Homo sapiens: one gene and its partners. The protein of the gene in region 1 purifies or fractionates together with the protein of each later gene. This does not show direct contact. Each region holds a gene or a part of one and is shown in the gene's direction. Other genes may lie near its edges. The genes, in order: IRF2, NUDT19, LSM12, GTPBP10, CUX1, GATD3 and SKIC3.

Region 1 (3,952 bases):
CAGAATTTTATTAGGTGGTTGATGGTTTAGTAGAAGAAAACCACAGTAGAATAATGGGGTGGGGGAGGATGGGTAAGAGGGGCTGGAGAGTAGACTCGAGAAGAAAACATCATCTGAAGGACTCACTGGCTATAATGAGAGAGTGGAGATCGCCTGCTGACCAGCAGCCATCAGTAAAGGCTTTGAATCCTTCGGGAAACCACACCAGGCTTGCATTTTGTTGGGCAGAGCAAAGACACAATCGCTTTGAGATTAAGAGGATTCCGATTTGAAAATAATTTACTCCTGGTGAAAGTAATTGAGAATATGATCAATAGAAAGAAATTCAAATCAAACTTGCTGAACAAGAGCCTTCCAGAAAGTGTAGCAGAATGTCAGAGTGCAAAAAGCCTTTCAGGTGAAAATGCATCCTCTCCCTTCCCGCAGTGTTCCTGCTTAGACAATATGTATATCCTCAGCGAGGCGTTAAAAACTGGACTGGATAGAGAGTGAACCTACAACCAGTGTCACCCTAGAACTGGAAGAGCTTTTGAGATCATCTAATCCAAATCCTCCCCTTCCCTCCCACCCTAGATGCTTTCAGGAAAACTGAGACCAGAAAGGTTAAGTGAATTACTCATGTGCCTGTTGGTACTGTACGAACACCTTCAGCTTCTTCATTTGTTTGGAGTTGCTGGAGAAGCAACTCCAGACTTCTTTATTCCATTGTATTCGAAGTAAGTAATAAACAAAAAGCAAAAACAAATTCAAACTAATCAAAAGGGAAAATGAAATGACAACGTATGTTGATAGTTCGATAGTAACACTGATCTGGAGGCCCAGCTGCAGTCAGCTCCCTTGTGTAAGAAGTCAGCGTGGAAGTGGCAATGGTGGTCAAACCAAGGAAACAGAGGACACGGGGCGCAGTGCATCCAACAAAGCACTTGGAGCCACCGATTCTGGGGTCACAGAGAGAACTGCTCCCCTCAGGGGGAGGTTCAGGGTTCTCTGCTCCTAAGCTAAGGTACTGAAGGCCCCTTTTTGAAACTGTCAGTGTCCTAATAGGGCGCATCTTCCTGACGACTTCAGATGCTGTGGAACTTAATCTAGACACGACGCTCTTTAACTCGCATTTGTGTCAGCTGAAAACATAAGTTCGGAGCATGTGTATCTTTTCTTATCTGCAGCTATTTCCCCGAAGCTGAAAACTGGGTACTTAAAGGAAGTTAGCATCCCGGTCACATTCATGGGCGGTGCAAGGTCTTACCCGGGAGCCTTACCCCAGGATCTGACTTCCAGCCCCTCCTGCACCTGCGACTGGGGCTGTGCTGGAATCCCAGCCCCCAAAGCATGCTTGGTTGCGTATCTTTGTTTGTATTTGGAGGGGAAAGGAAAAGAAGACAGTGATATTTATGGAGAGTCATTAGGAGTGAAGAGCATCTGAACCCGTATGAAAGGAAGAGAAAGCTTGGCTTTGGAGCACAAAGAAAGCTAAGCATAAAATGGAAAGCGGATCTTGAAATGTTGTCAGAGACCAGAACACCAGGGAAGCAGGGCTGCTGTGTGCAGTGCACAGGCCCTGGAATCAGAAGTACAGTTTTGTTTTCTCTCCTCTGTGCTGTCTCAGTTGGCAACTTTGGCAAGTTTCTCAACATCTCTGTTCCTCATTTTTCTTCTTGGGAGTGGCTGTTCCGATTCCTGCCTCCTCAGGATACTGAGCCAGCACGAGGGTTCTCTGAGGAGGGGAATTTTCTTTTTCTGTTGGTTTTCATGTGTTTCTGCGTGGAAACAATTCTTGTGCTCGGCAACGTCAGCTCATCTTCATAGCTGGGATCGTCGTCAGCTGAGGCTGAGGGCTTCTCTGGGTCTCTGTGGCTCCCAGCACGGGGTGTTTTGGGGAAACATGCCCAGTCCGAGGAGTGGAGAGATCTGTCTTCTGCATGCTCATGGCCAGCCCACCGCGATCACTCAGGTTTGTGTGAAGTTACTGGAGAACAGTGGCTGAGAAACAGGCCCAGAGACTCCAGGCTGGGACCAGTGGAGTCCACATTCTTACTTTCCTTGTTTAAGGAATGCACCTGTGGCACAGTTTGTCCATTTGTTCTTTTGCCTTTAATTGATAGAGAGCCTGGTCTGGGGCTAATGCTCTCAGTGGAAGAAAGGGCTCTGTCTGGGCTGGAGCCATCTCATCCCAGCTCTGCCACCAGGAAGATGTGAGACAGAGGCCAGCCCCTCAGCAGGGACCGGGTGGAAAGCTGGAAGGCACTGGAGCATAAGAGCTCTTCTGCGTAACGGGGGATGAGAGCAGCTGCTTGCTGACGTGGGACCCCTGTGAGACCTGCATGCAAAGCCTCTGACATGGCACTGACCCATAGGGCTCCCTAAATGTTTGCTTCTTTTAGAACACGAGCTTCACTTTTGGATTTTCTTGTGTTGTGAAATATACGTCACCTAAAATTTACCATACTTTTGGGTATGGGGTTATTAAATTCAGCATTGGAACTAAATAGGAGGAAAGGCAGTTAAAGGTTGCCATCAGGAAGAGAAGCTATTGCAGTTACTCTTTAGGCCTTGTCTGTAAAACGAATGGCTCAGGCTAAGTGATCTCTAAATGCCTAAATATTGCACAGGCTCTGCCCTCTGTGATTGCATTTCTCAATGGTTATGGACACTGGAATAATCGCACACCATTGATATTTTATTTTACAAAATCAAAATGTTTTTACGTTTAAAAAGCTTTTTATAAGCATAGGTCATGTGTAATCACTAGACTTCGATTCCATTAATCCAGCCTGTTGTGCAAACCCAGTGTTAAGCAGTGCTGATGTATGGAGTGTGTGCTGTGTGCCAGGCCCTTGCTAGGCCTTTCCCATGTACCCTCTCACTCACTCTCCATGTAATCCTCTTAGATGGTGGCAGTGCCCTCATTTTACAGAGGAGAAAACTGCAGCTCAGTAAAGGTGAGAAACTTGCCCAGTGTCTCACAGCTGGCAGGCCAAATGGGGATGGCAACTGATTGGCTGCCATAGCCATGCAGCCACAAACTTAGTGGCTTGAAGCGACACACATTTGGATCTTACAGTTTCTTTGAGTCACGAATCCAGGCGTGGCTTAGCTGGGTCCTCTGCTGCAGAGTCTTGCAAACCTGCCATGGAGGTGTTGGCTACAGCTGCTGTCTCATCTGAGGCTCAACTGGGGAAGGGTCCATTTCCAAGCTCATGTGGTTTTGGCAAAATTAAGTTTCTTGCAGGTTGTTGGACTAAGGGCCTCAGTCTCTTGCTGGCTGTTGGCTGGAAGCAGTCCTTAGTTCTTTGCCATAGGAGCCTTCCCAACATGGTTGCTTGCTTTATCAAGGCCAGCAAGGCAGAGTGTTTCCTCTCCCAGCAGGTTTCTGAGTTATGTAACATGATCATGGACACAGGATCACATCCATTTCATCCCCTTTGCTGTATCTTATTTGTTAGAAGCAGACACATTCCATCCACACTCAAGGGAGGCAATCCCAAAGAAAGTGAATCCAAGGAGGTGAGGATCATGGGGAGCACCCCAGATCTGTCCACCTACAGTAACCCACATGGCAGATGCAACTCTAGAAATCCAGGATCTAAGTCCTAAAGGGGTGAGAGGTAAAGGAAGGATCTGAGTGGGATGGGGATAATGTAGGAAGACCTTTTGGAAACGGTCAACTCTGCACTGGGAATTAAATGAATTGGTTGGCATGGATTGAAAGACAGGACCCATGTGGGCATTGTGGACAGAGCTGCAGTGAGGAGGGCCCCAGGGACCAGCGCCCCTTCCTGGGAGGTAGTGCCCAGTGTATACACAGCCCGGCCCTGGCCAAGGGAGCCTCCTCACAGCTCTCAAGCCTGGTTTCTCCGAAGATTACAGAGTTGAAATTCACTCTAGCTTCTCCCATGTAGAATGTTTCGCTTTACAAAGGGAGGGAGGTGATGCGTTTAGTTACTCAGTCTCC
Region 2 (4,679 bases), on another chromosome or scaffold:
CATGCGCCTGCAATCCCAGCTACTCCAGAGGCTGAGGCAGGAGAATTGCTTGAACCCGAGAGGCAGATATTGCAGTAAGCCGAGATCGCACCACTGCACTCCAGCCTGGTGAGAGCGCCAGACTCCCTCTCAAAAAAAAAAAAGGTTCAGTTTCTGTTGTTTTGCTATGCACCCAGGACCAGGACTTGGTCATCTCACTCATGAGTAACCAGCTTCTGTGAAAACCAGCTGATGTTGAAACACACACATTCACCTACAAAACCACGGTGTTATTTTACAGCAAAGGGAGTAGTATGTTCTTAAGACCCTTAATCCCTCCATAAATGGTTAGTCATCTGTAAAATAGTGGTAACTGTTTCCACTTCATGGGGTTTTGTAAGAATTACACAACTAATACTAATAAAGTTCCTAGTGCCTCACACACTGTACCCAGTAACTACTAATATTATTATCCCCTAGGATTATTATTACTCCTAGTATTGAAGACATGTTACTTTAATCACCTGAGTGCCTTTCTCTCCATTGCTCTGTATTTTTATTTTATTTATTTATTTATTTTTTTGAGACAGAGTCTCGCTCTGTCACCCATGCCGGAATGCAGTGGCAGGATCTTGGCTCACAGCAACCTCCACCCAGATTCAAGTGATTCTCCTGCCTCAGCCTCCTGAGTAGCTGCAACTATAGGCGCGGGCCGCCACACCCAGCTAATTTTTGTATTTTTAGTAGAGGCGGGGTTTTGCCATGTTGGCCATGCTGGTCTTGAAGTCCTGGCCTCAGGTGATCCGACCACCTCGGCCTCCCAAAGTGCTGGGATTACAGGTGTAAGCCACAGCGCCTGGCCAGAGACCAGGTCTCTTCAAACAAAAAAACAAACAAAACCCCTAAATATTGACAATGTCATCTGTGGATTCTACCCAGGAAATAACCCACATTAAAATGATGGTTTGTGAGGGTCGGCAGGGGTATAGTGTATTTCATCCAAAAACATAACAAATGTGTGATCCAATTATAATAGCAATTATGGGAAAAGCTGTCGGTGACTGATAAGGAGTTATAAAAGAAAAGACTCAAATTTACACAGGCTTTTCAAAAGATCATAATCCTGCTATTGGAGGTGGAAGTCTTCTAGACACTAACAAGGTGGAGAGAAATCTCCATGTGGAGGCCCAGATTAAACATCTCCCATCAAAGTGGAACTCGTCAAATGTCCTAAGACACCTAAGGCCGTCCCCAGGCGCCCTGACAATAAAAGGTAACCAGAACACGAGAGAAATTACTCTGGGAGTACCTTTCACATTCAAGGTGTGCAGTAGGAAATTTATAAATTGGCATCTGGCTCGTCCATTCATTTCTCATTGGTGTGGTTCACGTGTGCTTGCAAAGGTCAGACTTCTGCCCTTCGAATGTCCTCTCTCCCTCTCCCACAGAAAACACCCACATGTGGGTCCTTGTTTAAAGCAGAAAGTCCTAGTCCTTAGCTTTTAGTGAGGTGGATGTCATCAGGCCTGGGTTGGCATCCTGTTTTTTACCATGGCAAGTCATATGCGCCCTTAAGCATTCCTGCTTTTGGTCCAAGCTTCCTGCGTGGGAATACTGCGGTCCTCCTTTCAGGCAGCTGTGAATGACAAACGGTCGCTGGCTGCCGTGACACCCATTGTCCCGCGAGAGTGCCCTAGCTGGGCCCCAGTGCACTCGAGGCGGTCCCTGCTCGGGTGCCCCTCCCACAGGCAGGCGCCGTTGCCGACCAAACGCCCAGGTTCACCCAACGCCAGAGGCTCGTCCTCAATTCCCGCGAGGCCCCCGGAGGTGCTGGGGTCCCTGCAGGGCCGGGCCACCTGCCGTGGAGCTCAGGCCGCGCCAGAATCGGATCCGGGAAGCTGCGCGCCATGAGCAGCTCCCTGCGGCCGGGCCCCAGCCGCTGGCGGCGGGCGGCCAGCATCGTCCTGGCGGCTGGCTGGTCGCGCCCGGAGACCGCCACCCCGCCGTCGCGCCCGCCGCCGGCCGAGGGCTTCCGGCTGCTGCTGCTGCAGCGCTCCCCGCACCAAGGCTTCATGCCGGGCGCGCACGTCTTCTCCGGCGGAGTGCTGGATGCGGCCGACCGCTCGGCGGACTGGCTGGGCCTCTTCGCGCCGCACCACGGGCCGCCGCGCTTCGGCCTGGGCCCGGCGCCATTCAGCCGCACCGCTTTCCCGTCGCTGCCCGACACCGATGACCACAAGACCGACAACACTGGGACGCTGCCTGAGGACGTAGCCTTCCGCATCTGCGCCGTGCGGGAGGCCTTTGAGGAGGCGGGCGTGCTGCTGCTGCGGCCCAGGACTTCCCCACCAGGCCCAGCACCCGGGCCTGGCCTCGCCCTGGAGCCACCGCCGGGCCTGGCCTCCTGGCGCGACCGCGTGCGCCAGGACCCGCGCCACTTCCTGCGGCTGTGCGCCCACCTCGACTGCACACCCGACATCTGGGCGCTGCACAACTGGAGCGCCTGGCTCACCCCTTTCTTGCGGGGCACCACTCGCCGCTTTGACACGGCCTTCTTCCTGTGCTGCCTGCGCGAGCCGCCGCCCGTCTACCCCGACTTGGCGGAGGTGGTGGGCTACCAGGTAAGGCCTGCTCAGGGCCTTGCTGCGGACCGCCAGGACGTGAGAGGGAGGACCCCTCCCAGCGGCCCAGGCCCCCAAGGGACCCCCGCATAGGCCAAGCCCAGAGAGATTAAGCAGCAAGGAACGCTTAGACGGGCTGGAAACTCTCACCCCTGTAGACCAAAGCCATGCTCTTGGTGAAGTGCTCTCTGCTTTCCTAGGCTTTGGGGTCTCAAGGCCTGGAGCCTGTCTCTCCACGTGGTTCCTCCAGCGTGGCCACTGTGTAAGCACTTGTACATGTGTAGACATAGTACATCTCCACAGCCGTTTAATTTGGTTTTCTTGGAGAACAGACTTAATATGATCCAGTCTTCCTATTTTTATTTATTTTTGGTACAGATGGGGGTCTTGTCTCTCTGTGTTGCACACCCAGGCTCGTCTCCAGCTCCTGGTGTGTCCAGAATTGGTTCCTTCCAGTGGGTTCTTGGTCTCGCTGACTTTAAGAATAAAGCCGCGGACCCTCGAAGTGAGTGTTACAGTTCTTAAAGATGGTGTGTCCAGTTTCTTCCTTCAGATGTTCAGATGTGTCTGGAGTTTCTTCCTTCTGGTAGGTTCGTGGTCTCGCTGACTTCAGGATTGAAGCCGCAGACCTTCGCAGTGAGTGTTACAGCTCTTAAAGGTGGTGCGTCAGGAGTTGTTTGTTCCTCTTGGTGGGTTTGTGGTCTCGCTGGCTTCAGGAGCGAAGCTGCAGACATTTGTGGTCAGTGTTACAGCTTATAAAGGTAGTGCGGACCCAAGGAGTGAGCAGCAGCAAGATTTATTGCAAAGAGCAAAAGAACAAACCTCCCACAGCGGAAGGGGATCAGAGCAGGTTGGGTGCTGGTGGCTGGGTGGCCAGCTTTTATTCCCTTATTTGGCCCTGCCCATGTCCTGCTGATTGGTCCATTTTGCAGAGTGCTGATTGGTCCATTTTTACAGAGTGCGGATTGGTGCGTTTACAAATCTTTAGCTAGACAGAGCACTGATTGGTGCGTTTTTACATAGTACTGATTGGTGCATTTACAAACCTTTAGCTAGACACAGAGCACTGATTGGTGCGTTTTTACAGAGTGCTGATTGGTGCATTTACAAATCTTTAGCTAGACAGAAAAGTTCTCCAAGTCCCCACTGGACCCAGGAAGTCCAGGGGCTTCACCTCTCAATCCCGCCTCTAAACAGGGCACCCCATCTGCTGTTGGGAATTGGGCAATGACTGCTCTAGCTACTTCCTGCTGGACAGGGGCAAAGAAGGGGCCCTGCAGTTGTAGTGTCCTCCAGAGGGGAACTCTCTAGGCCAGTGAAAGGGCCAGTGGGTCGGTCCAGGGGTCCTCGGTAGAAGTTGTTAGTTGAGCTCATTTGGGTTTCCGTTTGTAAGACCATCTGTAGTTTGATGGCCTTGATTCTAGAGGAAACAAATTTGACAAGGAGGTTAAAAATACAGGGCCCGAAGGCGAGTAATAGTAAAACGGCTGTCACAGGATGTAGAAAGGGGAGAAGCCATGTTGCCCAACTCCAGAGGTTGGTATAAGAGTTTGAAAGGCGTTGTCTGATTTCAGAAACCTTTTCCTGTAAATGCCGGGCGGCATCTTGCACTATCCCTGACTTGTTAGTGTAAAAACAACACTCTTCCCCTAAGGTGCAAAGTCCTCCTTTCTCAGCAGTGAGGAGGTCTAGGCCTCGGGGGTTTTGGAGAGTCACTGCTGCCAGAGTCTATTTGGGATTGTAGTTACTATCCTTACTGAATAGATTTTGTTATTTCTTGCAAACTGTCTGAGAAATACTTTGAGAGTGTGTGGTAGTAAGATAATGAAGTAGATAAACTGGCTATTCCGGTTCCTGTAGCAGTGGCCATTTCTAGCCCTATAAGTAGGGGTATCAGTTGTATGGCCCTGTGCTGATGGACTTGAGCTTTGAGGGGCACTGATAGGGTCTGATGTCCATAAGATTAGAAGTTAGGATAATATGTGTTACACTGTTAACTTTTAGCAAACTTTACTTTTGTTGAAAACCTTAAGTTTGGGATTTCAATTATTCTTTGCTATTAATAAGACCTCGTTCAGT
Region 3 (3,952 bases), on another chromosome or scaffold:
AATACAAAAAAATGGCCAGGTGTGGTAGCTCACGCCTGTAATCCTAGCACTTTGGGAGGCCCAGGTGGGTGGATCACGAGGTCAGGAGATCGAGACCATCCTGGCTAACACAGTGAAACCCCATCTCTACTAAAAAACTACAAAAAAATTAGCTGGGCGTGGTGGCAGGCGCCTGTAGTCCCAGCTACTCGGGAGGCTGAGGCAGGAGAATGACGTGAACCTGGGAGGTGGAGCTTGCAGTGAGCAGAGCTTGCGCCACTGCACTCCAGCCTGGGCGACAGAGCGAGACTCCGTCTCAAAAAAAAAAAAAAAATTAGCTGGGGGTGGTGGCGGGCACCTGTAATCCCAGCTACTCTGGAGGCTGAGACAGGAGAATCGCTTGAACCCAGGAGGCGGAGGTTGCAGTGAGCTGAGATCGTGCCATTGTACTCCAGCCTGGGCAACAAGAGTGAAACTCAATCCCAAGAAAAAAAGCTATGCTTAGTTTATGGTTTGATGGATCACTGTAAAAGCAGAATATAAATGTTTGAAGATTCCAAGCATTAAGGTACTTTTGGAATATGCTGTAGGTATGGCTCCCCCATTTTTTTTTTGAGACGGAGTCTTGCTCTGTCGCCCAGGCTGGAGTGTAGTGGTACAATCTCGGCTCACTGCAGTCTCTGCCTCCCGTGTTCAAGCGATTCTCCTGTCTCAGCCTCCTGAGTAGGCGGGATTACAGGTGCACACCACCACACCCATCTAATTTTTGTATTTTTAGTAGAGACGGGGTTTCACCATGTTGGCCAGGTTGGTCTCAAACTCCTGACCTCAGGTGATCCGCCTGCCTCGGCCTCACAAAGTACTGGGATTATAGGCGTGAGCCACTGGGCCCAGCCAGTGCCTCTTTTTATTTAAGGAACTGATGTTTGGGGACAAATTGTGTGTTCTCGCGCGTGTTTGCACATGTGCTGCAGCATTGTTAGACTCAGCTGTTCATGTTCATGGGTCTGAAGAGTCTCCAGATTATTTGTTGGACTTTTAAGATGCATTGTTTGCCTTTAATTTGTTTTAACTACCTTGTCTAGCACATTTGTTTTGTCTTACACTCAAACAAATTTGTACCTCTGGAATCTCTAGCAACCAGTAGTGTGGGGTAGGGATCAGAAATGTGCTGGAGAGGTGATAGGGATTGACAGGGTAGAAGTTACGAGATTGTAGTAGACTACCAGATTTTACTAGATTTTCTTTTGATCAGTTTGTGGATGGTTCCACCAGAGGGCAGTGAAGGAACAGACATGACGTAGAATTCAGACTCTTCGTTTTTCTCAAAAGCAGGACAGGGTTGCCTTTAGCTAAAGTTAAAGGTGGACAGCGTTTATGGTTAGATTTACTTGAGTCCTGGCTCCCTATGTGAGCACAGATAATGTTCTGTAAGAGTTTTTAGAGTCTCAGATTGTGGTCTGTGAAGGTGTGGTATGTATTAATTTTTAAACTGGAGGCTCTAGCACAACAGCTGATAAATCTTAATTTTCGCCTTGAATGGAAATTCTGTGTGTGTGTGTGTGTTTGTGTGTGTGTGTGTGTGTGTGTGTGTGTGTGTGTGTGTGTGTTTGTTTTTTTTTTTTTTAAAGAGACAGAGTCTCACTTCTTTGCCCAGGCTGGAGTACAGTAGCATGATCTCGGCACACTGCAACATCTGCCTGCTGTGTTCAAGTGATTCTGCTGCCTCAGCCTTCTGAGTAGCTGGGATTACAGGCACGCACCACCATGCCCGGCTAATTTTTGTAATTTTAGTAGAGACGGGGTTTCACCATGTTGGCCAGGCTGGTCTCGAACTCCCTACCTCAGTGATGCACCCAGTTAGAAGTGTGTGTGTGTGTATGTGTATGTATTTTTTTTTGTTTGGTTTTGTTTTGTTTTGAGACGGAGTCTTGCTCTGTCACCCAGGCTAGAGTGCAGTGGCGCGATCTCAGCTCCCTGCAGCCTTCTCCTGGGTTCAAGCAATTCTCTGCCTCAGCCTCCCAAGTAGCTGGGATTACAGGAGCCCGCCACCACGCCTGGCTAATTTTTTTTTTTTTTTTGTATTTTTAGTAGAAACAGGGTTTTAACCATCTTGGCCAGGCTGGTCTTGACCTCCTGACCTCGTGATCCACCTGCCTCGGCCTCCCAAAGTGCTGGGATTACAGGCATGAGCCACCTCCCCTGGCCGGAAATGTATATATTTTTAAATCTCTGACCATCATTTGCCATCACATAGTCCCCCAGCCACACTCTATAATGTTAAAAGTGCTTTATTTTCTTCCTAGTGCTTATCACTGTCTGAAATCACCTTGATTTCAGTTACTTGTTTATAGTCTGTCTCCCCCACCCACTTCAGGCTATATTTAGCCTAGCATAGTGAATGTCTGGCACATGGTAGGTATGCAGTAAGTATTAGAAGGAAGGAAGGAACGTTTTCTTGGAATACCAGTAACTGTTCAGGTATGTCGTGGATTTTTAAAATTTGTTTCACTTTTCATTTCTGAGAAAACAGAATCTGTCCAAACAAGTCTTTCCTGGCCTCCTTTCTTCAGCTTAGGTCCTGACTGTTGGCAAGAATGAAGATGAATCCTATTCTGAGTCTCTTTCCTCTCTTCCACCCTAGCTTGCCAGCAAAGCACGGACAGAGAAGGAGGAGAAGCTGAGCCAGGCCTATGCAATCAGTGCTGGTGTCTCTCTAGAGGGCCAGCAGCTCTTCCAGACCATTCACAAGACGTGAGTTGGGATCGGAGAGGTCCTTTGTCCTGGGGTAATGCTACCTGGTTGTGCTGTCTGGTGGCAGGCTTTTGGGTGGTTGTCTTCCTAAAAGTCTACTGGGGAAGCTGGGTAGGGTATTGGCAATATGCCAGCATCCAGAGGTGCAGGTGCTGTAGCCCCCTTTCCACACAGAAGAATAGTGTAATCACGGACAAGTTGTCTTCTCTGGTCTTTAGTTGCTTGTCTGTAAAACTTAGTTTTGGATTAGATTATCCCTAAGGATCCCTTCTAGACCTAGTAGTCCATAACTTAGAACTAGTGATTTCTTCTCTTTGATTTTGTTGTTTTGTGCCTTTCTTTAAAAGCTGATGCAGTTTTTATTAAGGGAAAGTTATATCTATATCACTTTTCCCATTGTAGATTGGGATGAACACAGGGAGTTAGAGCAGGCCACCTTCTTACCACCTCTTAAAAGACATTTTGGGGCCGGGCGCGGTGGCTCACGCCTGTAATCCCAGCACTTTGGGAGGCCGAGGCAGGTGGATCATGAGGTCAGGAGATCGAGACCATCCTGGCTAACAAGGTGAAACCCCGTCTCTACTAAAAATACAAAAAATTAGCCGGGCGCGGTGGCGGGCGCCTGTAGTCCCAGCTACTCGGGAGGCTGAGGCAGGAGAATGGCGTGAACCCGGGAGGCGGAGCTTGCAGTGAGCCGAGATTGCGCCACTGCAGTCCGCAGTCCGGCCTGGGCGACAGAGCGAGACTCCGTCTCAAAAAAAAAAAAAAAAAAAAAAAAAAAGACATTTTGTTGGTCGGGCACGGTGGCTCACGCCTGTAATCCCAGCACTTTGGGAGGCCGAGGTGGGCGGTTCACCTGAGGTCGGGAGTTCCAGACCAGCCTGACCAACATGTTGAAACCCCCATCTCTACTAAAAATACAAAATTAGCCAGGCGTGGTGGTGCATACCTGTAATCCCAGCCACTTAGGAGGCTGAGGCAGGAGATTCGCTTGAACCCTGGAGGTGGAGGTTGTGGTGAGCCAAGATTGTGCATTGCATTCCAGCCTGGGCAACAAGAGCAAAACTCCGTCTCAAAAAAAAACATTTTGTCACAGCAGAAGTCATTTGACTCTCCACTAGCTTCCCTAGCTGCTGAAAAACTGGAACATTTGACACCCCTCTCCACCCCGCCTCCCCCCACCCCACACTGCCATCTGTTACTCTGTTTAACCACCCTG
Region 4 (3,952 bases), on another chromosome or scaffold:
GGTATCCTCGGAAACGGTTTGTGGCTGGAGTAGGAGCAAACAGCAAGTAAGTAATTACTGAATGACTTAAATTTTAGAAAATCAAACCCTTCTGGAAATTTTTTTTTTAGTTACAAAATAAAAACTTAATTGTTAATTTGAAGTAAATTATTTCCTGTATTTATAACCAAGCAAAAGCCTAAAATGTCTCAACTCATAAAAGACTGATACTAAAGAATATTTCAGAGTTTTAAAACTTTCTGTCCGTTTCTTTTCCCAATGTCTATCTGTATTCTTTTTGCACTTCCCCTGTAGAAACCGATAATTATCTGAATTCCCACTGTTTTCTTCTAAAATTATCTTTGACAACCTTTTAGAAAACTTTCAGTCTTAACCATGCTACTCTACCCCACCACCATTAGAAGGCAAGATAACCACTATTAACCTTTTCTTGACTTTTCTAAGACTTTTCTGTGTGTTTACACAAATGCAATTATGTGCCTAAAAGTTTAGAATACAAAAATGAGAGTACAGTATTTTACAATCTGCTATTTTTACTTTTTTTCACATGTCAAAATTATTCAGAATACCTGCATAATAAATAACTATTTTGTCATTTGTCTATTTAGGTTATTGTTGATTTTTTTTTCCGATTATAACCACAGTGCAGCATTCTGTGTAGATACTATTTTACATGTTTGTTCAATTATTATTTTGATAAATTCCCAGAAGTAGAATTACTAAAACATTTGTACTAATTTTTTCTTTTATGAGCAGTTTAAGAGTAGCCAGATTTGCCTTCTATAATGTAAGTACTCTCATTTGAGGTTAGTTTTTTAAAAGCTTTGCTATTTGGTGGATTTTCTTTTTTTTTTTATAGATTCATTTTTTCTTTTTTTTTTGAGACAGAGTCTCATTCTGTTGCCTAGGTTGAGTGTAGTGGGCACTATCATAGCTCACTGCAGCCTCTACCTTTCAGGCTGAAGTGATCCTCCCACCTCTGCCTCCCAAGTAGCTGAGACTACGGGTATGTGCCACCATGCCCAGCTAATTTTTAAATTTTTCTTTTTTTGTAGAAATGGGGTCGTGCTATGGTGTTCAGGCTTGTCTTGAACTCCTGGACTCAAGAGATCCTCCTGCCTCCGCCTCCCAAAGTGCTGAGATTACAGGCGTGAGCCACCACGCCTGGCTTTTTCTACCCTATTTGTATTGTAGCAATAATCTCTTCATTTCATGGTTGCAATATTTTAGTTTCGGGTTAAAATGACCTTTGGTGGTTAGCTTAGTAACTTAAATCATTACTTAATGCCATTTTAGTGGGATATAATAGTCTAAAATGCAAAGAAATAATTAGGGATAATTTTAGTTTTTTTAAACCCCGTGTTTGACCATTTAACATCTGCGTTAACCAGAGAATTGATTGCTACTCTTCTTTGTAAACCATTTTGTGTGTATGTGTGTGTGTGTATATATACACACACACATACATACATATATATACTTTTTTTTTGGTAGAATTAGTGCACTGAAAGGCTCCAAAGGAAAAGACTGTGAAATCCCTGTGCCTGTGGGTATTTCAGTAACTGATGAAAATGGTAAAATTATAGGTGAGTGTACTATAACTCCAAAAGTTGTAAAAATGTGCACGTTTTCTAAAATGAAACAATGGAATAGCTTCTCTTGAGTTTCAGAAGATTTTTTAACTAACAATTTTAGCTACTATTCTATAAGAGAGCATTTTTAAAACTTATAAAAGTTAAATTGACTGCTAGATTTAAGATTGTTTTAAAGATGTTACAGTTCTTACTTGGTCTTAAAATATATAACTAGGCTCTTTTCAATTGTTTACTGAAGTGTTTTTCTGGGGTCAAACTTTTAATAGATTTGTAAATTGGAATTTCCTGGACTGTTTTTCTGAAAGAACAATATTACATTAATGATTCTACTTATTAATTATAGATTTGTAATTGAGAATTTCCTGGCATGTATTTTTGAAAGTAAAATATTACATTAATGATTTCACTTACTAATCTATAGATTTGTAATTTTGCATTTCTTTGCCTGTATTTCTGAAAGAAATATATTGCATTAGTGATTTCACTTATTAATCTTTGCTGTAAGTATTTCTCTCCCTCTTTTTAAGGAGAACTCAATAAAGAAAATGACAGAATTTTGGTAGCTCAAGGAGGTCTTGGTGGTAAATTACTTACAAATTTCTTACCATTGAAAGGCCAGAAACGAATAATTCACCTTGATCTAAAACTTATAGCTGATGTAGGCCTAGTAGGGTAAGTATCGTTCATATTTTTATTATTATACTTTCAGAGAGAGAGTTCTTGAATAGAAAATAAATGTAAATGGTAATTTGGGGCCATAATTATTTCTAATTTATGGAATTTGTGTGTTGTGTATGTACTTGGAAAATATGCTGCTAAATATTATTTTCAAATTGCCAACACAGAGTTTCATAGTTATTGCTTATTTATAAAATTAAGACCAGAGCAATTGAATAGATCAGTGGGAATGTTAGAGAATGCATAAAGAAAGAAAAATCAATCAAATGCAATATTACAAGATGGTTAAATAATGTTACCAGATATTAATAATAAATCCAAACAAACCGTATTATTATTAAAAATATATAGAAGGAAATAAACAGGGAAAAATGGTTGACATAACTCTTTTGGGTCTTAATAGAGACATTAAAGTATCGTTAATCAAATGGCTAAAGACCAGTACAGACAATCTCAATCCTCAGACTTACGCACTGTTGCCGCCAAATTGAATCCTGCTATGACTGTATATCCTTCTTGCCTCTGCTTAGGATCTATCTAGTCTCAGCAATGTAGGCCTCACAAGAGTGTCCTCTTCCACCAGCCTCCATTCTTTCATTAAATAATGCTGTTTAGCTGTGGGGTTTGCAGTGCAGCTGCCCACTGGAAGGGGATAGATAGTAAGATACAGAATACATAAAGGAAGAGAAAACTTCAATTTGCATTTGCTCTCTCTCCCCCATCCCCCCTCCCTCCTATCCTCTCCCTCTGGCCCTATCACAGTATTACACAGTTATTCAGATGGAAAGCTTAAGGACAAGATAAGGAAAACTGCCTTATTACTGTCCTACTCCAAATTCCTAGTTCTATTTTTTGCTTCCCCATAGCTTCTTTCTAAGTTCTTTTCATGTTCCTCTTCAGTCATCTCACTGCTTCTTTACCAGACTCTTAAGTCTGTATCCCTCGTCTTTTGCCCTGCCTGACCAGCCACTAGAGCTTACCACCATTGGTTTAGGGTTCACAGAGGCCCCATTCCTGCTAAAATTATAACAAGGAAAGATGTGATCCTGGCTTGCCATTTACATTTATTTTTTTCAATAAAGCACAGTTACAAGAGTTATTAGATGTAAGTTCTATAATCCTCTATATTTTTAGGAACATTATGGGCTTAATAGGGTCTTATGGACAAGACTGGCAGTCCAGCCAATCACAGTTGCATTTTGCATAAACATGTGTTTCAAGTTCTGAAGAGACAACTTTACAGTCTAAGAGGAGCCTAGCACGGCTTAGTCATAAAAGTGGAGTGGCATGGAGGACTCAGGTTAGACTATTTAGGTTAGGATCTCAAATCCTCTGGAGGCTGGCCAGCTGGTCTTGGGTAAATTACACAGCCTCTCTAAGCCTTTGTTTTCTCTTCTTTTTTTCTTTTCTTTTCTCTCATTCTTCCTTCACTATAGTTTTTTGCTTTTCACCACGTCATTTGTTTTCTCATCTTTAATAGTGTATGGAGATAAGTCTTTCCTTAAAATGTTGGTGGGTAAGATAATGCATTTACAGCAGAATACATGCTTTGCATTTTTGTACGTTCAATGAATTGTAGCTGCTATCTTCATCATCATTATATTGCCAACTTACTGGAAAACTGCATATAATGAAATACTAGGCTTTTCAGAAGTAGGTTTGAAATTTGTCTGTAATTA
Region 5 (3,952 bases), on another chromosome or scaffold:
AATCCTACAGAGGTAGGTTAAATTCCTACCCGTGCTTCCATTTCAAATAGTTTACACATTTGTCACATGTAAATTTCACAGACAGGTATATCTGACGAATTGTAACACAAATGGTATGTAAAAGGCAACTCTAACCATTATTCAAATATACAGGATCCAGGATCGTGAGTTATTGTAGAAATTACTTAAGACCTATTTAAAATTATTGAATACATAACTTTAAAAAATGTAATTGCTCTATGAAAAGTGACTTTTATTATAATTGTCAAAGACAGAAATTTGTCTGTCTTGTCCTTTTGTTTTGTCTGAAGCCCCGCGTTATCGCTGCAGAGAGAGAGTTTTGGTTTCCACCGAAATTTCCCTGCCTCCGATTGTTTAAACCAGACCCTTAATCTTATTTTAACATATTTAAAATGTTCACAAAACCCGGAAGAATTGTTTTGTGTAAGTAGCAAGCGAGTGTAGCTTAAACACTCAAGCAATTCTGGTATCTAATTGGAAACAGGTGGAATTCTTGGAATCCCATGTTTGAGTCTTTTTATAGCAAAGCCCAGGGACACTTTTCACTTATAGCCATTCGTTTTGTCGAAGCTATTTGAAGAGGGGCCCCACAGCCTCTCCTTATGTCCCACTGTTGCTTACCTGGACAAAGCAGTCGTGCTGGGCGCTTTAGGAACTGGATACCTGTGAATGCCTGGATGCCGAGAGAAGTGTGTGTGTGTGCCGATAATGGAGTGAAAAAGGAATCTAATGGTATAGTTAGACAAGCAATTTAATATCTGCATTGTTATATGACTTTAGAGCAAAGAATTTGTGAATTCATTTGTGATTTCTGACTTGATGAACCTTGACTGACCAGAGCATGTAGGTACATTTTATTATACCCCAATAATGATATAGAATTCAGAGAGAAGATACTCCCCCCCGCCCCCAAAAAAATTCTACATTTAGAGAATATAAGCTCCACCAGCAACCATAAAAGTATTAACTTGGTGAGGGGGATATTTTCTTTCTTTTTTTTTTTTTTTGAGACAGAGTCTCGCTCTTTCGCCCAGGCCGGAGTGCAGAGGCACTATCTCAGCTCACTGCAAACTCCGCCTCCCGGGTTCACACCATTCTCCTGCCTCAGCCTCCCGAGTAGCTGGGACTACAGGCGCTGGCCACCAGGCCTGGCTAATTTTTTGTATTTTTAGTAGAGACGGGGTTTCACCGTGTTAGCCCGGATGGTCTCGATCTCCTCACTTAGTGATCCGCCCGCCTTGGCCTCCCGAAGTGCTGGGATTACAGGCGTGAGCCACCGTGCCCGGCCCCTATTTTCTTTTCTTTTCTTTTTTTCTTTTTTCTTTTTTTTTTTTTTTTTTTTTTTTTTGAGACGTGGTTCTGTCGCCCAGGCTGGAGTGCAGTGGTGCGATCTCGGCTCACTGCAAGCTCCGCCTCCAGGGTTCAGGCCATTCTCCTTCCTTAGTCTCCCGAGTAGCTGGGACGATAGGCGCCCGCCACCATGCCTGGCTAGTTTTTTTGTTTTTTTGTTTTTTTTTTTTTTTGAGATGTAGTCTGGTTCTGTGGCCCAGGCTGGAGTGCAGTGGCGCGATCTCGGCTCACTGCAAGCTGAGCCTCCCGGGTTCACGCCATTCTCCTGCCTCAGCCTCCGGAGTAGCTGGGACTACAGGCGCCCGCCACCACGCCCGGCTAATTTTTTCTATTTTTAGTTGAGACGAGGTTTCACTGTGTTAGCCAGGATGGTCTCGATCTCCTGACCTCGTGATCTGCCCGCCTCGGCCTCCCAAAGTGCTGGGATTACAGGCGTGAGCCACCGTGCCCGGCCGATGTTTTCTTAAATATTAATGGCAGGGCCCTCTGGATTGACTGTGTTATTTGACCCATTCCAGTTTTCAAGGCGTGGTCTTGAAAAGCTGTCGATCACCCTGGTTTTGGGATGTGTTTCAGAACCAAGTTTCGATGGTGTGTCAGTGTTGGATTTTCCTGCTGAGGACAGCTAAGGTTTGGTATGGAGCAGTTTTGGATTTGCTGAGCTGTAATCAGTCCAGCTTCTCTGCTGTCTTCTGAGAAGGTTGATGGAGGAGAGTGGTCTTTGGCGGGGATGGAGGTTTCCCTGCAGGAAATGAACCAGGACTGAGGGGAACCTGTGCCGTTCCCCTCATTTGTCCTGCGCCTGAAACAGCTTTGAAGCACCTGGCTTGTGACTTAAAAGATTTTTAAAAAGCATTTGTGCTGCCCTATTCGGGTATTACACAGTGAGGGTGAACCATTCTTTTCGAAAGACGTCTAAGGCCGGGCACGGTGGCTCATGCCTGTAATCCCAGCACTTTGGGAGGCCAAGGCAGGCAGATCACTTGAGGTCAGAAGTTCGAGACCAGCCTGGCCAACATGGCAAAACCTCATCTCTACTAAAAATACAAAAATTAGCCTGGCGTGGTGGCGCATATCCATAATCCCAGATACTCGGCAGGCTGAGGCATGAGAATTGCTTGAGCCCAGGAGGTGGAGGTTGCAGTGAGCTGAGATCGTGTGACTGCTCTGCATGCAGCCTGGGTGACAGAGCGAGACTCTGTCTCAGAAAAAAAAAAAAAAAAGACATCTAATTTGTTGTAAAACCTGTCAAGAACCTTCCCTTTAAAAAGCTAATGCCTCTCTAATAAAAATAATTTTAATTTTGTTGTAATTAAATTCAGAGAGGATGATGTTAGTGCACAAAATAAAGATTGTCAATTTCTTTATTTTAATCCAACGGCATTTCCTAACTGCAGGAGGCCCAGGACCGTTGGCAGAAATTTTGTGTTGATTAGAGCCTCGGGCCATGGGAAGTGCAGGTACTGTGGCCACAAAGTTCGTCGCCCAATCCCTGGCTGACCCCACAAGCAGGACTGGTACAGATCCCACCCTCAGGGGTCTTCCTACACAGAGAAACATAATCACACAGGTGACTGGAACGGAGCCAAGGATGGTGGTGTTCCTCCTAGGGATTTACTAACACTGCCAGCAACTCAAGAACTAGCCAGCCGGGAGTTTCCTAGTAAGTGAAACTGACTTGGTTCTGCTTCCTTTCATGAAAACCTTTGTGAAAATGAGCCCAATAAGGGGTCCGAACCTTTATAAAGCACACGACCCCCCAGAGTGGACCGGGCCCTGGCCGACTCCATCAGCCGAAGCTTGAGATCTTGGATGGTCTGGATGGTCTTGACCGTGTGTGATTGATGCAGTTAACAAAGCAGGAAATTAACAGAGCTTACTCTGAGACACCAGGGAAGTGGCTTGTTCTTTCTTGGGGTTACTTTGAGTGGATGCTGGCACACTGCTTGTTTTCTTATAGATACCTTTCTATTGGGCTGTGTTTATTCAATAAGGAAATGCAGTTAACATTTTTTTAACAAGTAAACCATGGGTTATGAGGTGTTCCGAGTTTGGTTAAGGGAAAAACAAATTGACAAATTAGCTCTTTCTTAAGTGAGTATTGCGAAACAGTGAGAAATAGAATGCCTGTCGTACCGTCATTAAAAATTTATCTGGGTGTTGACAGCTTTTTGTTAAATGTAAGACATTCAGATCCTGTCCACCCAGCATATGAAAAAACCAAACCAAACCAAACCGAAAAACAAAATGCAACACAAAAGCTTCTTTCCATTTCCCCCCAAAAGCAAGACAATTTTTCTTAAACTGGGGCTTTCTCCCTAATGAATTGCCATGATTTTGTTTTCTCTAACATAGTTTAATATCTTTAAGACAGAACGAATATCAACTCTTTTTATTTTATTTTTTGAGACGGAGTCTCACTCTGTCGCCCAGCCTGGAGTGCAGTGGCACAAACTCCGCTCACCGCAACCTCCACCTCCCAGGTTCAAGTGATTCTCGTGCCTCAGCCCCCCCGAGTAGCTGTGATTACAGGTGTGCACCACCACGCCCAGCTAATTTTTGTGTTTTTAGTAGAGACAGG
Region 6 (3,952 bases), on another chromosome or scaffold:
GTCCTTCTGAGCAGCTGTGCTCGGGCTGTTCCAGAAGTAATGCTGCCAAGGCTCAGGAGTGCCTTCCTTCCAGTACTCACAGAAGGACTGAAAATGGCGACCGGATCGCTTCCCACTGAGTCAGGCTGCTCATACCTTGGTCTTAAGCAAAGGTGGTGGTTCTCAGCTTGGTCGCCCACCTTCTTCCCCTGTCTGGGCTCCAGATCTGTTTTGCTGGTTCCCAGCAGCATGTCTGTTACTGCGGTGTGTGTGGTTCTGGCCTGTGTGGCCTGAGATCCCCTTCCCTTGCCTGTCCTGCCTGACAGCCCTGTGCAGGCCATTCCAAGGTGCCTTCCAACTGGCCTCGGACCACGAGAGGTCGGAGCTGGAGATTCGAGGAAGAAGCCATAGCTGCCTCCTGGGGCTGTGCTTCTCACCAGTGGGGACCCCTGTGATTTCTTTTCCTGCCTGGGACCCTGGCTTCTGCACCTGGACTTGCACCTTCGGCCCCCACACCTGGGGGCTAGCAGCTTCCTGCGGTGGCTGGCCTTCGGGTTGCTTCACTGGTCCTGAGTCCTGGCTTCTTACCTTCCCCTCTGAGTCCCACCGTCCTGATGAGTGCACAGAATTCTGTCTGCTTTAGACACTCGGAGAGACTTCCATTTCCCATGGGCCTTGACTGCAGAAGATTCAGAGTGATTTGGCGCAGGTTCTGAAGTGCTGATCGGAAGAGCCCAGCATAGATTTAGCGTTGCTAGAACCATGTTGTCTTTCCAGGTAGTGACCAAACATGCTGACCTGGAAGTAAGTCCCCGTGTGGCTGAGAGCCACGTGTGTGGAGCGTGTTGCCTGTGGGCTGTGCCCCTGCCGCGCTCCACAGTCCTTCACCTGCATGCTGAGGCTTTTTGCCCTGTGCTCTTTCCCAGGAATGTTTTGACCGAGTCTGCGAGGATCGCCCGTGGCAAAATCACAGACCTGGCCAACCTCAGTGCAGCCAACCATGATGCTGCCATCTTTCCAGGAGGCTTTGGAGCGGCTAAAAACCTGTGCGTATTTGAGCTCCAAGGTCTTCCGCTTTCCATGTGGAGCAGATGGGAAGGGGGTGCACCTGTCTGCTGTCCAATGTGGTCAGTGGAGCGGCGATGGGAGGGGGTGGTGATAGGAGCAGTCTCTGGGTTTAGGGTCTGGGCAGGGCACGTGCCTGCCCTCTGACTTGGGAGCTGTTCTTAGGGTTGGGTCTTAGGTAGCGTTGTAGCGAGCCATGCTTTTGTTTCTGCTTCTCTGCTGCCTCTTCTCTCAGCATTCCTGGTACCCAGCAGCTTGTCAGAGTGGGTTTGGGGCTCCCTCTTATCTCATCACTGTGCTGTAGGTCTCGTCACGTTGAAATCAGTCTCTGAGTATTTACTCCTTGCAAGTGCCAGTTTTTTTTCTCTCTCTCTCTCTTTTTTTTTTTTTTTTTCTGTAGAGATGAGGTCTTGGTCTGTTGCCCAGGCAGGGATGCAGTGGCACGATCCTAGTTCACTGCAGCCATGATCTCCTGGGCTCAAGCCATCCTCCAGCCTCATCCTCCTGAGTAGCCGAGACTATAGGCGCATGTCACCATGCCCATGGTTTTGTTTTTTTTTTTTTTTGGCCATGTATGTAGCCCAAATTGGTCTGGAACTTCTGGGCTCGAGTAACCCTCCTGCCTCCCAAAGTGCTGGGATTCCAGGCCTGAGCCACCGCGCCTGGCCCCAATTCTCTTATGGAACCTTGCAGGATCAGAAATGGGTTTCCTTCTTGGTAGTTTGGGCGGCGGTCCTGACAGGAAGAAGGGAGGCCGCCTTGGCGTGGCTGTTTTGGTAGCTGGACCGTGAATCATGGAGGCCTGGCTGGCTCCCACACGGTGGCGTCCTTGAGTTCCAGATCCTCTTTCTGTTCTCTGTGTCTCCTCTCTCTCTTTGCACATTCATGGAGGTTCTCTGGGCACCGCCCCCATGGCCCTGCCTGAGAGGTGGAGGTGGTGCCAGGCTGACCCTCCAGGGACAGCTCTGCCACCTGCAGGAGCACTGGCCACAGTGCATCGGAGCGTGCAGGTGGCTTCTGTGCCATGGTGTGGGTGGCAGCCCCAGCACGGCCGGCCCCGGTCGGCAGCTCCTGTTTCAAGGGCAGGTTGGAGGCTGGCTGGCCGCTTGCCCCACCCTGGGCAGCCTGCACCCAGAGTCGAGGGGTAGGCAGTCTCCATCCGAAGAATGCGCCCCTCCTTATCCCGAAACCTCAGAGGCCTCCTTCCTCAGATGCCAGCTGTTTTCTCAGTGCCCTTGGCCGTGCCCTCACCCCTCTCTCACCGGAAGCCCCACCCCAGCCTGTCGTCCCCGGTCTCCTGAAAGCCAGCAAGCCTCGTCGGTGCCGCCCACACCCCTGACCTCACGCAGCCCCACGTCAGGCTCGATCTTTTGTCCAGTTGTCCCTGCGTCGCTGCCGTCTCCACGAGGCTCTGACCACTGACACCGTGTGTGGCGGGGCGCAGGGGCAGCTGGAGGGTGTGCTGGGGGCTCCGTGCCCTGGCATGGCTCCTCCACATTTTGCCAACCCAGAGGCACAGGCGTGAGGTGTGTGGTGGTTCTCAGGGTCAGTGGGTCTTGGCCTTGGCTTTCAAGGTGTTGATGGGCCCTGGGACTGATGTGCCCGTGTGTCTGAGCCCACGTCCCCTGGGCGAAGCTCCCATTTTCACTGACCTGTCCAGAGCGTTCTGGGTGAGCCTGCCCTGCGTGTCCATGGTGCGGCGCGCTCTAATGAGCTGCAGCCGTGGCCACTCTGCACCCTCTGAGACAGTCACCCATGGGGACGGCGAACACCCACTGCCTCCAGAAGATTCCCAGCACTCTGCCAGCAAAGCCATGTGGAAAATGCTGGGGCAGAGGACTGGGGTGCGTGAGGGTGGCGTAGAGCCCAGGGGTGGGTTCGTGGGAAGGTGTGTCCACTTGTAGATTTGGTGGCATTGCCAGATCACACGCCCCATGGGCAGTGTGGAGAGACCTCCCCTGCCCCGCGTGCCCTCCACAGCTCCTGCTCCTCGGCCTGAGGTGTGGATGCTGGTGTCGCAGGTAAACTGGCGTTTCTTTCACGGTCATCGAAGCAAGAGTGCTTGGTATGCCTGGAGGCCGACTGCGTTTCTTTTTTTGGGAACTCCTGGAGTTTCCTGCTGCCCCTTTGTTTTAAGGAAAAACTCTCACACCGTGTTTCTCCTCCTCCCACCACAACAGTTGTCCACACAGAAGGTGGGTGTGAAGGGTCTTCCCCATGCACCACGCAGGGGTCGCTGCTGCCTTCTAATTCAGTTCCAACAGTATGGACCCGGGGTAGCGTCCGATCGCACGGGTTGAGGGCTCCGTCCCCAAAACTGCCCTCTGACACATACCGGTAAACTGTCTGAGCCTCTGGAACTGACCAATTGGCTTCAAGTTGGGGTTCCCACAACCCCGTTTGCTGGCGTGGCTCACAGTGCTCAGGGAAACATGACGTCAGCATTCTCCCCCGGGGAGTGGGGGACCCTCTCAGGAGAGGGTCCTGAGACCCACAGTCAGAAAGGCGGGGAACATTAGAGTCCTGCTTTGGGGCAGGTAAAGGGCAGGCGGGAAGGTCAGAGGCTGCCCGAGGCCCGACACAGCCAACGTCGTAACAGAAAGCTAACAAGCAGCACGGGAGTTAGGAGCCGGAAACCAGCGTCTGAGTCTCAGCACCGCAGCCCGGGTTCTGCCAGCTGCTCCGGAAGGTTCCAGGGCGTGGGCCCTCTCGCCCTGGTGGCCTCCTGCTGCACCACTTCCTGATCCTCCTGCTTCCTATGCTTATTTCTGTTTAAAAAACAGGAAAATATGTTCACATCAAACGCGCATATGTGCAGCCATGCCCATGTCCCTTGCTGCAGCTGACTGAGGGTCTGGAGCTGTGCCTAGGAAGCCCCCCAGGAATAGACCCTGGTTGTGAGGCTGTC
Region 7 (3,952 bases), on another chromosome or scaffold:
ATGATGGCAAAAGCAGCTCTAGTTGATTATCTTGATGGAAAAGCCGTAGACTACATAGAAAAAGCACTGGAATATTTTACTTGGTTCGTATTATTCTTATTATTTATTGTTTATTTTTGTAATATTAAAATGAAGCCAAATTTAGAAGATCATTTTATGTATTCTGCTAGATATAGCAATTGCTCAGAATGTCAAACATAAAGAATAACAGACAAGCCAATTCTATAACATACATGTTGTATTAATTTTGCACTTGGGGAAACAGATATAATTTCTTCTGCTCTTAGTAGTGGCTGGCATCCTAGATGCATAGGAAAGAATAGGAAGGAAGGAGCAGTCTGCTAGTGGAACAGCAGCTCTGACACCATGTGTTAGTGTTCTCTTTCAGTAGGCCTGGAAATGAGTATCTTTAATTGGAACCGATTGGGAAATAGGGCTTCAGGTGCTCAATATGCTGTACATTCAGTGGTAAGAGCCAATTGTAGGATTATTAGTAGGTCTTGAAGGTAAGGGGAAATGACAATCTGATTGCTCCTGAGGAGAAACTGTGAAGGAAAAAAGTGATGTGTCTAATAACAAGAAAGGAATCAGAAAATTTTGAGTAGATTTGGCATTTTATAGAACTGTGAATTCATTGGTTAGGTCAGAAAAAGTGTTATCTGTGGTAGAAGACTTCCAAAAGTCCACAAGTTAGATGTACATTTGAATTTTTTGTAACTCTTAAACATCTTTCTTCTACTTCCCCTCTTTTCCTGCTTGGTTTCTCCTCTGTTTTGTATTTATTGGTTGTTCCAGAATTGCTTTTCATATGAACCAAATATGAAATGAAAACCTAACCCTTTTTTATCTCACTGAATTTTATTGCTACTTTTCAAGTCTCACATAATGTAGTTCTTTCTAAAGGGAAAGTTACTGTGTAAAGGGCATGCTTTATTTGAACTGCTATTTAAGAGTAAATGTGAACCTTTGGGTGACAGTACCTTAGCTATAAATACTGCCTCTCTGAGCCTAGGAAATGTTATTCTGGATAACATGTAACATAACCCATTAGAAGGTGGCATATAAAACAATTATAATCTCCAAATGTATATTTACTTCCAGACTTACAAGGCGTTAATACTATCACAATTATTGTGTAAGGGTGATATAAGTTACTTCAATTTATAGATATTTTATTTTTATTGAACTCAAAATAAGAATTTAGGCTCTTAAAATCGCCTGTTTCACTTTTTTCCTCTCTTCTCATTTTTTGCTGTCAATTTTAGAAATTTTGCTAAGATATTTAGGCAAAGGAACTCCAAATCATATTGCCCTTCTTTCAGATTCTCAGTGGGCTTTTAGTTATGACCACAATAATTAATATTATTTCTTAGGAAGACATTGGAAAATTATTTTTGGCTGGACTCCATGAGTAGAAAAGGCTATGAAAAATGTTCCATCTGCTTTTCCATCTGCCAGTAACATAGCAGCTTGTGATAGCTGATTATTGAGACTTGGCTTAAATGAAATTGCCATGTGTTATTTATAAGATCTCGAGAAGAGAAAAATGAAGAAAAATGTATAGCTGAAGTTTTTCTCATTCTAAAAGGAATTGCCCTCTGTCACCATAATTAATATTTCTCTTTGCTTTTTGAGCTTGTTCATTCAGTCTGCTCTTGTTTCGGTAAATGTAGTTCTTCAGATTTTTATGTTTAGATTTTTGTTTTTTTTTTTTGGTCTCAGGGTATTAATGTTCAACATCACCAATCATCAGGAAAATGCAAATCAAAACCACAGTAAGGTATCATGTCACCCCAGTTAGGATGTCTGTTATTCAAAAGACAAAAAATAAAGGCTGGCAAGGATGTGGAGAAGAGAGAACTCTTATATGGTTTATGGGAATGCAAACTAGTGTAGCCACTGTGGAGAACAGTATGGAGTTTTCTCAAAAAACTGCAAATAGAACTACCGTATGATCCAGCAACCCCACCACTGGGAACTTATCCAAAGGAAAGAAAATCATTATATCAAAGAGACATCTGTACCCTCATGTTTATTGCAGCACTATTCACAATAGTCGAGATATGGAATCAACCTAGATATTCAACAACAGATGAATGGATAAAGAAAATGTGGTATTTATATGCAATGGAATACTATTCAGCCATAAAAAAGAATGAAATGCTATCATTTAAGGCAATTTGGATAGAACTGGAGGACATTATGTTAAGTGAAATAAGCCAGGAACAGAAAGTTAACCACCATATGTGCTTACTCATATGTGGAAGCTAAAAAAAAAATTGATCTCATAGAAGTAAAAAGTAGAACAGAGGATACTAGAAGCTGGGAAGGGTAGGGGGAAAGGATATATGGGTAATACTTGTTAAAGGACACAAAATTACGCTAGATAGGAGGAATAAGTTCTAGTGTTCTGTAGCATTGTAGGATGACTGTAGTTAACAATAATATATAGTTTCAAATAGCTAGAAGGAGGATAGTGAACATTCCTAACACAAAGAAATTATAAATGTTTGAGATGATTAATATGCTAATTACCCTGATCTGATCACAATACATTATATGTATCAAAACATCTCTGTACCTCATCAATATATATAGTTATGCCAATTAAAAAATAAAATTTACAAAAATCTTTCAGATCTTACCAAATATATTTGGTATATTTTATTTGAGGTGTCTTCATCAATTTTTTGCTGCCATAACAGAATACCATGGACTGGTTAATTTACAAAGAACAGAAGTTTATTTGACTTGGTTCTGGAGGCTGATAAGTCCAGGAGCATGGTGCTGGCATCTTGGTGAGGGTCATCCTATGGCAGAAGGGCAGAATGCAAGAGAAAAAAAATGGGACTGAACCTACCCTTTTATCAGGAGCTGACTCCTGTGACAACTAACCCATTCCTACAATAACAGTATTAATCCATTTAGGGAGGCAGAGCCCTCATGACATCATCACCTCTTAAAGGTCCTACTTCTCAACATTGTTGTCCTGGAGATTGAGTTCCCAACTCATGAGCTTTGTGGGGATGTAGTCAAAACTACACAGCATGAGAGAAGATCTAAAAGCAAAAACCTGAGTTTACAACTGTCAGTTGTAAGAGAGTTACAAACTTTACTGCCTTGGTCATTGCTTAAACACAAAAAGCATAGTTTTAACATTTTAATATTAAAAGGAAATTGGTCCTGGAAAACTTATTTATTTATTTGCGTGATTGCTGCTACTTCTAATAAAAATGGTGAAGAGTAACAAAAAAAAGTGTCCACAAAATTTCTGGCACTTAAAGTAATCCCTTCCTCCTTCCCTTTCTCCTTTTCTTCTTCCCTTCCTATTAGGGAGGTGATATGATATGATTCAGTTAGGAGGAGACTAGTAAAGTACTTAATGTACAGTTTTTCTGTTTTAAGTAATAATCAGGGAGATAAACTTCATGCTTTTTATAAATAATTTGTAAGAATCACAATGTTTCTTTTTTTAGTGCTCTACAGCATCGAGCTGATGTGTCCTGCCTCTGGAAGCTAGCTGGGGATGCTTGTACCTGTCTGTATGCTGTCGCACCATCTAAAGTGAATGTTCATGTTTTAGGAGTCCTTCTAGGTCAGAAAGAAGGAAAACAAGTATTAAAGAAAAATGAGCTCCTCCACCTTGGAGGAAGGTAATTTGCAAAGATTGCCAGTTAATAACATTTGAATTGAATTAAGGCATTGTAACAAAAAACATTCACTTTTATATTCCCGTAGGTGTTATGGTCGTGCATTAAAACTGATGTCTACATCTAATACATGGTGTGACCTTGGAATTAATTATTATCGCCAAGCACAACATCTAGCAGAAACAGGCAGCAACATGAATGATCTTAAGGAGTTGCTGGAGAAATCTTTACATGTATGGTATAAATAAATTTTTTATAAACCTTTTCAAAAACATAATGCTTTTCTCGAAGTTGTTTTGGAT

Evidence for each region.
Region 2: the proteins of IRF2 (region 1) and NUDT19 purify together in Homo sapiens (affinity purification with mass spectrometry; one large-scale study listed by BioGRID and IntAct). This does not show direct contact.
Region 3: the proteins of IRF2 (region 1) and LSM12 purify together in Homo sapiens (affinity purification with mass spectrometry; one large-scale study listed by BioGRID and IntAct). This does not show direct contact.
Region 4: the proteins of IRF2 (region 1) and GTPBP10 purify together in Homo sapiens (affinity purification with mass spectrometry; one large-scale study listed by BioGRID and IntAct). This does not show direct contact.
Region 5: the proteins of IRF2 (region 1) and CUX1 purify together in Homo sapiens (affinity purification with mass spectrometry, with the first as the bait; one large-scale study listed by BioGRID). This does not show direct contact.
Region 6: the proteins of IRF2 (region 1) and GATD3 purify together in Homo sapiens (affinity purification with mass spectrometry; one large-scale study listed by BioGRID and IntAct). This does not show direct contact.
Region 7: the proteins of IRF2 (region 1) and SKIC3 purify together in Homo sapiens (affinity purification with mass spectrometry; one large-scale study listed by BioGRID and IntAct). This does not show direct contact.

The regions. Positions count from the first base shown.
Region 1 is NC_000004.12:184,390,829-184,394,780, reverse strand, and holds part of IRF2 (interferon regulatory factor 2), read left to right. Parts: intron 1-3,952. UniProt on the Homo sapiens protein: Specifically binds to the upstream regulatory region of type I IFN and IFN-inducible MHC class I genes (the interferon consensus sequence (ICS)) and represses those genes. Also acts as an activator for several genes including H4 and IL7.
Region 2 is NC_000019.10:32,690,075-32,694,753, forward strand, and holds the start of NUDT19 (acyl-coenzyme A diphosphatase NUDT19 precursor), read left to right. Parts: upstream 1-1,746; 5' UTR 1,747-1,886; coding exon 1,887-2,600; intron 2,601-2,890; exon of another isoform or gene 2,891-4,020; intron 4,021-4,679. UniProt on the Homo sapiens protein: Fatty acyl-coenzyme A (CoA) diphosphatase that hydrolyzes fatty acyl-CoA to yield acyl-4'-phosphopantetheine and adenosine 3',5'-bisphosphate.
Region 3 is NC_000017.11:44,038,928-44,042,879, reverse strand, and holds part of LSM12 (protein LSM12), read left to right. Parts: intron 1-2,623; coding exon 2,624-2,733; intron 2,734-3,952. UniProt on the Homo sapiens protein: Nicotinic acid adenine dinucleotide phosphate (NAADP) binding protein. Confers NAADP sensitivity to the two pore channel complex (TPCs) by acting as TPC accessory protein necessary for NAADP-evoked Ca(2+) release.
Region 4 is NC_000007.14:90,352,964-90,356,915, forward strand, and holds part of GTPBP10 (GTP-binding protein 10), read left to right. Parts: coding exon 1-46; intron 47-1,494; coding exon 1,495-1,586; intron 1,587-2,122; coding exon 2,123-2,267; intron 2,268-2,743; exon of another isoform or gene 2,744-3,952. UniProt on the Homo sapiens protein: May be involved in the ribosome maturation process. Complements an ObgE(CgtA) function in E.coli ribosome maturation. Plays a role of GTPase in vitro. When missing, disorganization of the nucleolar architecture is observed.
Region 5 is NC_000007.14:101,820,329-101,824,280, forward strand, and holds part of CUX1 (Homeobox protein cut-like 1), read left to right. Parts: intron 1-3,952. UniProt on the Homo sapiens protein: May be involved in intra-Golgi retrograde transport.
Region 6 is NC_000021.9:44,136,272-44,140,223, forward strand, and holds part of GATD3 (glutamine amidotransferase-like class 1 domain-containing protein 3, mitochondrial isoform 1 precursor), read left to right. Parts: intron 1-905; coding exon 906-1,025; intron 1,026-3,952.
Region 7 is NC_000005.10:95,516,847-95,520,798, reverse strand, and holds part of SKIC3 (superkiller complex protein 3), read left to right. Parts: coding exon 1-83; intron 84-3,476; coding exon 3,477-3,653; intron 3,654-3,738; coding exon 3,739-3,883; intron 3,884-3,952. UniProt on the Homo sapiens protein: Component of the SKI complex, a multiprotein complex that assists the RNA-degrading exosome during the mRNA decay and quality-control pathways.